3 separate regions of the Homo sapiens genome follow, and all the other regions are linked to region 2. The links come from fine-mapping of genetic effects on gene expression. A gene starts in region 2. Each other region holds a variant in brackets. All regions are shown on one strand. Distances are from middle to middle.

Evidence for each region. PIP is the estimated chance that this variant, and not a neighbour inherited with it, causes the effect.
Region 1: its variant is fine-mapped to the expression of SLFNL1-AS1 in ovary (GTEx, PIP above 0.99).
Region 3: its variant is fine-mapped to the expression of SLFNL1-AS1 in whole blood (TOPMed, PIP above 0.99).

Annotation. Positions count from the first base shown.
Region 1 is chr1:40,986,512-40,989,270 of GRCh38, forward strand. It overlaps CTPS1 (CTP synthase 1), which reads left to right. Exons shown (of 19, transcript NM_001905.4): 4 at 861-961; 5 at 2,083-2,199. Among named protein-coding and RNA genes, the nearest start is that of CTPS1, 8.2 kb to the left of the region's middle. The variant G/T (reference allele first, on the strand shown) is at 1,270.
Region 2 is chr1:41,013,044-41,015,802 of GRCh38, forward strand. It overlaps SLFNL1-AS1 (SLFNL1 antisense RNA 1), which reads left to right and starts at 1,547. Exons shown (of 4, transcript NR_037868.1): 1 at 1,547-2,759. SLFNL1 (schlafen like 1) reads right to left here. Exons shown (of 6, transcript NM_144990.4): 6 at 2,554-2,759.
Region 3 is chr1:41,156,365-41,159,123 of GRCh38, forward strand. The region is part of intron 4 of SCMH1 (Scm polycomb group protein homolog 1); the gene reads right to left. Among named protein-coding and RNA genes, the nearest start is that of SCMH1, 85 kb to the right of the region's middle. RefSeq lists a silencer at 275-464. The variant G/C (reference allele first, on the strand shown) is at 1,692.

The sequences.
Region 1 (2,759 bases), 27 kb before region 2:
TTCTGACTTGAATTTTAAAAGATCACTTTGACGCCATGTGTGGAGTAGATAATGAATATTCTTCTGCGTGAGGCAAATGAATATCCTTGTGCATGAGGCATTGCTGTAACTGGAGTAACCTGGAGTTAAACAGTAATCTTCACCTTTTAGGAACTTGCCATCTGTGCCCAACAACTATGATTTTTGAAGTGTTGAGCAATTGCTGGCATTCTTTGAGCATTGACATGGCAGGCACTTTACCGAGCATTTTACAGGTGCTGTCTCACAAAATTTCCACAGCTTAACAGGTGGGGAAAACAAGCTTAAAATGGTTCTATAATTGGCCCAAAGATCCACAGCTAACGAGTCATGAGACTAAGGTTTGAATCCAGACATTCTGACCCCGGGTGCTGTGCTTCTAACCACTCTGCTGTGCTGTGCTGGCTCACTGCAGTGGATTGTCTACCCTTTGGTAAACTGGAAACATATGGAACAGGGTCCCAGAAGTCTCTTGTTCCTGGAAGTGCACTGAAGTGTAATGTGCCTACCTTCAGCTGTGAGCAATAGGGTTGGCTATACTGGTGTGTGGCCAAAAGGGTAGACTCTGCACAGGGGCACGTGCGCCTGTGTGGCTCAGGACACTGCTGTCAGCCTTGCTCTGTTGCAGGGCTTCCAGCAACAACTTAGACATCTGGCTGCAGGAAGTGTGAGCTCAGAGATTTGTTGAGGCCAGTTAAAGGGGGCCTCAAAAGTATTTTTATGACCCTATTGCTACTCTCTCCAGGCAAAGAGTGCTGCAGTTTGTTTTCACAGTAAGTGCATTTGTCTCAATCAATGTAGATGGACAAGCGTAAGTTCCCTGTTTGTTTTCTTTTTCCCAGTTGTCCCTCATATCACAGATGCAATCCAGGAGTGGGTGATGAGACAGGCGTTAATACCTGTAGATGAAGATGGCCTGGAACCTCAAGTGTGTGTTATTGAGGTTTGTATGATTCCTGCACATGTGAACAAGTGTACTCATCTCCTTAGTCAGCCATCAATAACTGATAAGACAGTTCCCAGTGGAGCCCTTGGCCTTCCTATCTCTGGTGCAGTATGTTGCAATGTGGCAGGTAAGGGCACAGTTAACAGTCATGTGGAATGGCCACGCAAGGGAAAACCGTAGTTTGCCCAGTGTTCCTTTTTTGTAGCATTTATGGTACAATCACTTAGTACTGATTGTCCCCATGAGTAGTGTGACACATTTTCATCTGTCTCTTGAGCAAGTCAGCAGATCTTTTGCTTTCGTCT[G/T]GCAAGAGCATTCGTCTCCGAATGAGCTTCATTTGGTTTCAGTATCTGTACTCCTGCTGTGCTGATCCTAGCTGTTGGATCTCAGTGTTCCTCAGATAACAGGAGACTCAAAAGTTCCAGCAGTTTGTTTATAACTAATACTTTTTTTTTGAGACAGGGTCTCACTCTGTCACCCAGGCTGGAGTCCAGTGCAGCAGTCATGGCTCACTGCAACCTTGACCTCCTGGGCTCAAGCAGTTCTCCTACCTTAGCCTCCCAAGTAGCTGGGACTACAGTGCGCACCACCATGCCCGGCTAGTTTTTGTACTTTTTTGGGAGAGGCAGGGTTTCGTCATTTTGCCCAGGATGGTCTCTAACTCCTGAACTCAAGCCATCTGCCTGCCTTGGCCTCCCAAAGTGTTAGGATTACAGATGTGAGCCACCGTGCCCAGCCAACTGATGCTTTTTCAGTACAAAAATTATTTATGGTTAACTAAGGAGATAAGATTTAGGTTTTTCTTTTTTTTTTTTTTTTACTTTGTCACTGTGATAGAGATAACATTCCTGGCACCTCTCTCATCTGACCTTTTTCTTGAAATGATGTGGAAAGTTCCATAATAACCTTTGGGAAGGATGAGCCTGTCCAAAAGAATAACCTTTTAGTACAAAGAGTTGTCTAATTCCTGTTAACTGTTAACTAACATTATACAGGGTTAGAGAGTCCGTGTTACATAATTACTGATACTGAATCAGGAAGACAGAACAGTTGTTAGAAAACTAAACTGCCAGAGAAGGGTTTAGTGCCTAACCTCTGAAACAACTTTGTTCTTCTAGCTTGGTGGAACCGTGGGGGACATAGAAAGCATGCCCTTTATTGAGGCCTTCCGTCAGTTCCAATTCAAGGTCAAAAGAGAGAACTTTTGTAACATCCACGTCAGTCTAGTTCCCCAGGTAAGTAAGACATTGAAAGTTTTACTTTGGGGGAGATGGAGAGGAGGGAGGAAAGGTAAACCGGAATGATTTTCACTCATTGTCTAGTAGTTTTCACTTGAGGTGCAGGAAGCAGAGAATAAAGAACTTTGTAAGTTTAAATTTGTTACAATCATACTTTTTTGAAAAGATCAAATAGAAAACATTTGAAAAATCAGGGCAGTTGCATTTGCAGATGTAGATTGGCCGTGTGCATTTGTCTTTACTATATGGTGGAACTAGAGTAAAGAGGCTGTTTTTAAAGACAAATCTTGTGGAGAGGAGTCAATAGTAACAAAAATTGGGAAGCCGGAAAGCAGATGGATGCATAGAACCGACTAAGCTGACCTTGAGTGCCGGATCTTAAGCCCGCAGCAGTGAAAGCAGAGAAGCAGCCCTGTTTGCCCTGCAGAACCCCAAAAGCTCAGGAGTGGGATGAGGGTGGGCCTCATGTAACTACTGCTTCAGAAGACTCAGACCCTGACATCTTTTTCCTACAGTGCACAGTTGGGCGTTAGCCTCCTCCCACCTTGGCAGAAGAC
Region 2 (2,759 bases):
GAGATTGTCTTCATTTTAAATTTTATTTATTTATTTATTTATTTTTTTGAGTCAGGGTCTCACTCTGTTGCCCAGGCTGGAGTGCAGTGGCACAAGCACGGCTTGCTGCAGACCTCCTGGGCTCATAAGATCCTCCCACCTCAGCCTTCCAAGTAGCTGGGACTACAGGTTCACATCACCACGCCCAGCTAATTAAATTTTTTTTTTTTTTAATAGACAGGGTCTCGCTGTGTTGGCCAGGCTGGTCTTGAACGCCTGGCCTCAGGCGATCCTCCCATAGTGCAGGGATTATAGGCATGAGCCATTGCACCTGGTCAATAGTCTTTTTTTTGAGATGGAGTCTCACACTGTTGCCTGGGCTGGAGTACAGTGGCGTGATCTTGGCTCACTGCCACCTCCACCTCGCAGGTTCAAGTGATTCTGTTTGCCTCACCTTCCCAAGTAGCTGGGATTACAGGTGCCTGCCACCACGCCCATCTAATTGTTTTGTATTTTTAGTAGAGATGGGGTTTCACTATGTTGGCTAGGCTGGCCGTGATCTGCTCATCTCAGCGTCCCAAAGTGCTGGGATTACAGGCGTGAGCCACCACGTCTGGCCCGTTTTTTTTCAAACATTCCCCAAACTGAGGGTCTGACACGCCCGTTGTTGACATCATGGTCCCCCACAATGGCTGGGTGTGTGGGTGGTGTGAAAAAGCCTCCCAGTAATTAAGTTCCTGCCCCTATGTTTAAGATCACTTTGGCTGATCACTTGTCAAGTGCTGGCCACATAATGTAAGGTTTCTGAAAAAAGAGATCCCAGATGGCTCTCCAGAGCTTGCAAAGCTCGAGCAGCCCCGCCACGCTGGCTGTGGCAGACAGGATAGGGCTGAAGCTGGATTTACAGGAGGGCAACCTGTGCCCAGTGTTTACTGACCCGTCCCCGGAGGCTTCTCCCTCATGGGGAGGAAAGCTGGTCACATTCCTCGTTCCTTTCTTAATGTGACCTAACAATAGGCACAGCTATGTGTAACTTCCCTTCAGTAACTTCCTTCAGTCCAGGGAACTTCCCTTCAGTCCAGGGGATCTGGGCAGTTCTTAGCAGTCTGGAGCAGCTGGGCTGAAGCCTGACTTCACCCTTCCTTTGTAGAAATCTGCTCTTTTCCCCCGAAAAACATTTCCGAGGATTGTGGTGCCTGGACTAGCATTTAGCATGGTACCTGGACCGTGGAAGGTGCTCAGAAATGCCACTCCTCCTTCTTGAGTAACACATTTGTGTAGTTTTCAAACAGTCTTGGTGACCTTGGGGCAGCTCGGGGGGTGAGCAGCAGGAGTTTGGTAACCTGCCACCATATAGGTGTCTGTGATCACATTGGTCCCTAACCAGCATGAATGGCAGCCGAGGCAGGGGTTGTGTGCTCTTTGCTAAGTGGGAAAACCAGGTCTCAGAGCAGTTGTGATCACCCAGAAAATGTCACCTGGCTGGTGAGTGGAGGGGCTGGGGGTTCCAAAGTTCTCATCTGTGTCTGCTGTGGATGTGGCCAGGGTCTTCAAGTTTTAGGGGATCAACTGAAGTGTGTTCTGTGGAACACTAGTCCTGTGAAATGCCCTGTTCAACAAGGTTTGGTGATTTTCTGGTGGCTCAGACCCCAAATTTAGGAGTATCCTTAATTGTCTCACCAGCAGGTATTTATTGGGTGTCTACCATATGCCAGCCATACCCAAACCCCTGTCCCCCAGAGCAGTTATTCAGTGGGGGAAGCACCAAATATAAGCTACAGAGTGTGGTAGTTCATAGATGGAGACCAGGGGTGGAAGTGAGCAGGGGAGTGGCAGTGCTGGGAGGTGGTGTCTTTAAAATAGGGTGGGTGGGAAATTAAGCATGGACTTGAAGGTGAAGAGGAAAGGAAATAGGCCGCTATGTAGCGCAGAGGCCCCGAGGCAGGAGTGCAAATGAAACAAGTTGGTGGGCGTGGCTGAAGTGGCTTACATAAGGGGCGGAAGACATTGAGGTTGGGTGGGCTAGGTGGTGGAGAACCATGTAGGCCATCAAGTTTGGGCTTTGCTCTTGAAGAATTTGGAGGGCTATGGGTGCAGGTGTGGCGTGAGTGTGATCAGACTCTGGCTTTGCAGCCTCTGGCTCAGCTGGTGGAGACAGCAGGAGAAACGGCCAGAGGCAGGAAGCAGCTGGAGGAGTCTGGTTTTTTTTGTTTGTTTTAAGCTAACGGTCTTACTGGACCAGAGGGGTCTTGGAAAGGAACTGAGACCCTTAGTGTGAGGTGCTGCTCTGTGCCACAGCTGGCGTAGACACAGGGCACTGGCCCGATGGTGACAAAATGCCCCTGGCCATTGTCACTGTCTTATAGATGAAGAAACTGAAGCACAGAGGCATAGCACTTTGCCCCACGGTCCCTGGTCTTTAAGACAGAGCTGGACTGGAGTCTGAGGGGCTGGGCTCCCTGCCCTTGCAGGTCTGTCCTCTGCCTCCTGGACAGAGGTGGGCTGGGCCTGGGACTCATGACCCTGCAGCATCTGACCGGCTGACCCAGTGTCCTAGAAAGAACCATTCTTGTCCCAGGTGCATGTAATTTATTAATGGAGCTTTGACAGTCACAAGTTCCAGCAAGTCAGGGGTGGGGGCTGCAGGGTGGCCTCTTGCCCTGTAACCACAGTCATCAAATATGCCTCGCCATCTTTGAGGGGCTTTCCTGAGATGACAGATTCCTTTCTGGCACTGTGTAGCCAACTGGAGTCACAGACCTCAGCCTGGGCCAAATGAG
Region 3 (2,759 bases), 140 kb after region 2:
ATAGTGTTCCATGTACCAAAATTTAAATAACAATATATTTGTTAAACGCCACTGATGGTAATTTAAGTGTCTTTATTTTATTTTTTTTGAGACGGGGTCTTGCTTTGAGTCAGTGTCAGGCTGGAGTACAGTGGTGTGAACACAGCTAATTGCAGCCTTGACCTCCCGGGCTCAAGCGATCCTCTCATCTCAGCCTCCCTAGTAGCTGGGACTACAGGTGTGTGCCACCATTCCTAGCTAATTTTTGTATTTTTTGTAGAGACAGGGCTATGCCAAATTGCCCAGGCTGTTCTCGAACTCCTGAGCTCAAGTGATCTAACTGCCTCGGCCTCCCAAAGTGCTGGGATTACAGGCATGAGACACAGATTTGGGATTTGTCCTAAGGGTGGGATTAGTGGACAAAGAGCATGCATAGTTTAGATTTTGATACAACATATATATTGCTGAAATATCCTCTAGAAAGAACATACTGATTTTTCTTCTTAGAGGCAGGGTTTCCCTATGGTGCCCAGGCTAGTTGCAAACTCCTAGGCTTGTCATCTTCCTGCCTCGGACTCCCAAAGTGCTGGGATTACAAGTATAAGCCAACTTTTTTTTTTTTTTTTTTTTTGAGACAAAGCCTCACTCAGATACCCAGGATGGAGTGTGGTGGCACAATCATATCTCACTGTAACCCCGATCTGGACTCAAGCAACCCTCCCCGCTCAGTCTCCAGAGTAGCCGGGACTACAGGTGTGCACCACTATGCTTGGCTAATTTTTTTCTTTGTAGTAGAGACAAGGTCTCACTATATTGCCCAGACTCAATTTCTATTCCTACCGAAAGTACACAGGTGTGTTTACCACATATTTGCTAAAACTGTGTTTTAACAATTTCCATAATTTTGACAAATCTTATCAGTGAAAAAATAAAATACTATTATAATTTTATTTGCAATTCTTTGATTACTAATAAAGTCAAAGATCTCTTTAGGCTTATCAGCCAGTCTGTATTTTATTTAGCCATTTTTCTGCTGAGATATTCTTTTGTTTTCTCATAGATTCTAGGAGTTCTTTGTAGATTAAGGAAAAGTCACTAGAAGAATTTTTACTTAATAGAAATAAAGCATCTAGAGAAAGTGTTCTTTTCACTATACCACAGGGTCCCTCTGAAAAGACACAGACTTTCAGGCAACAGAAAGAGAGCCTTAGATAAGGCAGAGAAATCAGAGGTGTTTTCGAAGGTCCAGGCAGATATCCTGATATGAGAAAGGTCTGGATTTGGGAGGCTTCACAGATGTAGAATCACAATATTCAAGCTACAAAGGACCTTAGTGTTTCCTAAAACTCATGGCTTTCTTGGTCCCATATCTTTGCCCATGTTACTCACACTCAGTGACTAAAGCTCAGCAAAAATTTTACATTTTCTGTCAGAAGGCTTTGCAGAAAAGGGCTGGACAAATTTTACCATCTCCCTATCTCCTATAACATCCTGTTCACATCATATCACCATAATTATTTATGTAAGCTCTTTATGGATGGGGGCTTATATTCATTTTTAAAATCTTTACTGTTTAACACAGTGCCTGAAATTTAATAGAGGCTCAATATGAGTTTCTGAGTGAATGAAAAGAAGCACACAAGTAATATTCCTATTCTTTCTTGGACTAATAAAATAATACCTGGGATATAGTTCTGAAAACTACACTTTGA[G/C]AGAGAGCAAATCTGAGTTTAAATGATTACCTAGTGATGGTAAACAGACCCAAAACCACATCACCTGAGGACCAGGTGAAGGAACATGAACAATTAGCATGAGTAAAAAAGTGAAGTCTCAGAGCCATTCCCCATCCATCCAACAAATATTTATAGTGTGTGTCAAAGCACTGTGCTGAGTGCTGGACATATAACTGTAATCAAAATATCATCCTTAACCTCACAGAGCTTCAGTCTAGTGACAGACAGAGAATCTAGTGAGGGACAGAGACTAAACAGTCACCACTAAGATAATGTGATAAGTGCTACACTGGAGAGACAGAGGGTGCTACAGGAGCACCCAGAGTGCTTGTGGAAACTTACCAAAGAAAGCTCTAGGCTTCTAAGCTAAAGTGTAAAAGGATAAGCAGGAGTCAAAGAAAAAGGAAACTCTTTTTGTTTGTTTCAGACAGAAAGAAAGGCATTATAAAGGCCCAGACATGAGAAAAAGCAGTTCTAAATGCAGATCTTTTGGTATGGCTGCTGGGTGGAGTTTACAGAAAAAGTAGTTTAGAAAAAGGTTACAGATAAAGGCAGTGTTCAGTCATTAGCGAGCCAAATATACTGTATTACTGAGAAGAGGAAGTCTTCAAGCGTTTGGGGTGAAGTCATTCTGGCTGTAGTGTAAAGAATGGGCAGGAGGGTGATAGGGCTGGAGGCAAAAAAGACTAGTTAGGAAGCTGTTTTAATAATCTAGGTGTGAGATTCAACTATGAAAGCGGCAGAGTGGCAATGAGAAGGCAGTCCCTAGAGCTTCTCTCTAAAAATCAGGGCCAGTAAGTGAAAAATAGGCTAACCCTGTTTCATATGGCCAGAAAGTCAGAGGGATGACTAACAGAAATTACAAAAAGAGCAAATTTTTGACCAATAAATATGTCTAAATATGAAATGAATTACGTGAGGAGGTTCTAAGTCCTCAAAAACTTGAGGAGTTCAAGATAAGACATTTTACAAAAAATTCAAAATGTTGAGTTTTAAATGCTGGGCAAGGGTAGATTATTTTATGGTCTTTTCCAACTTTGAGATTCC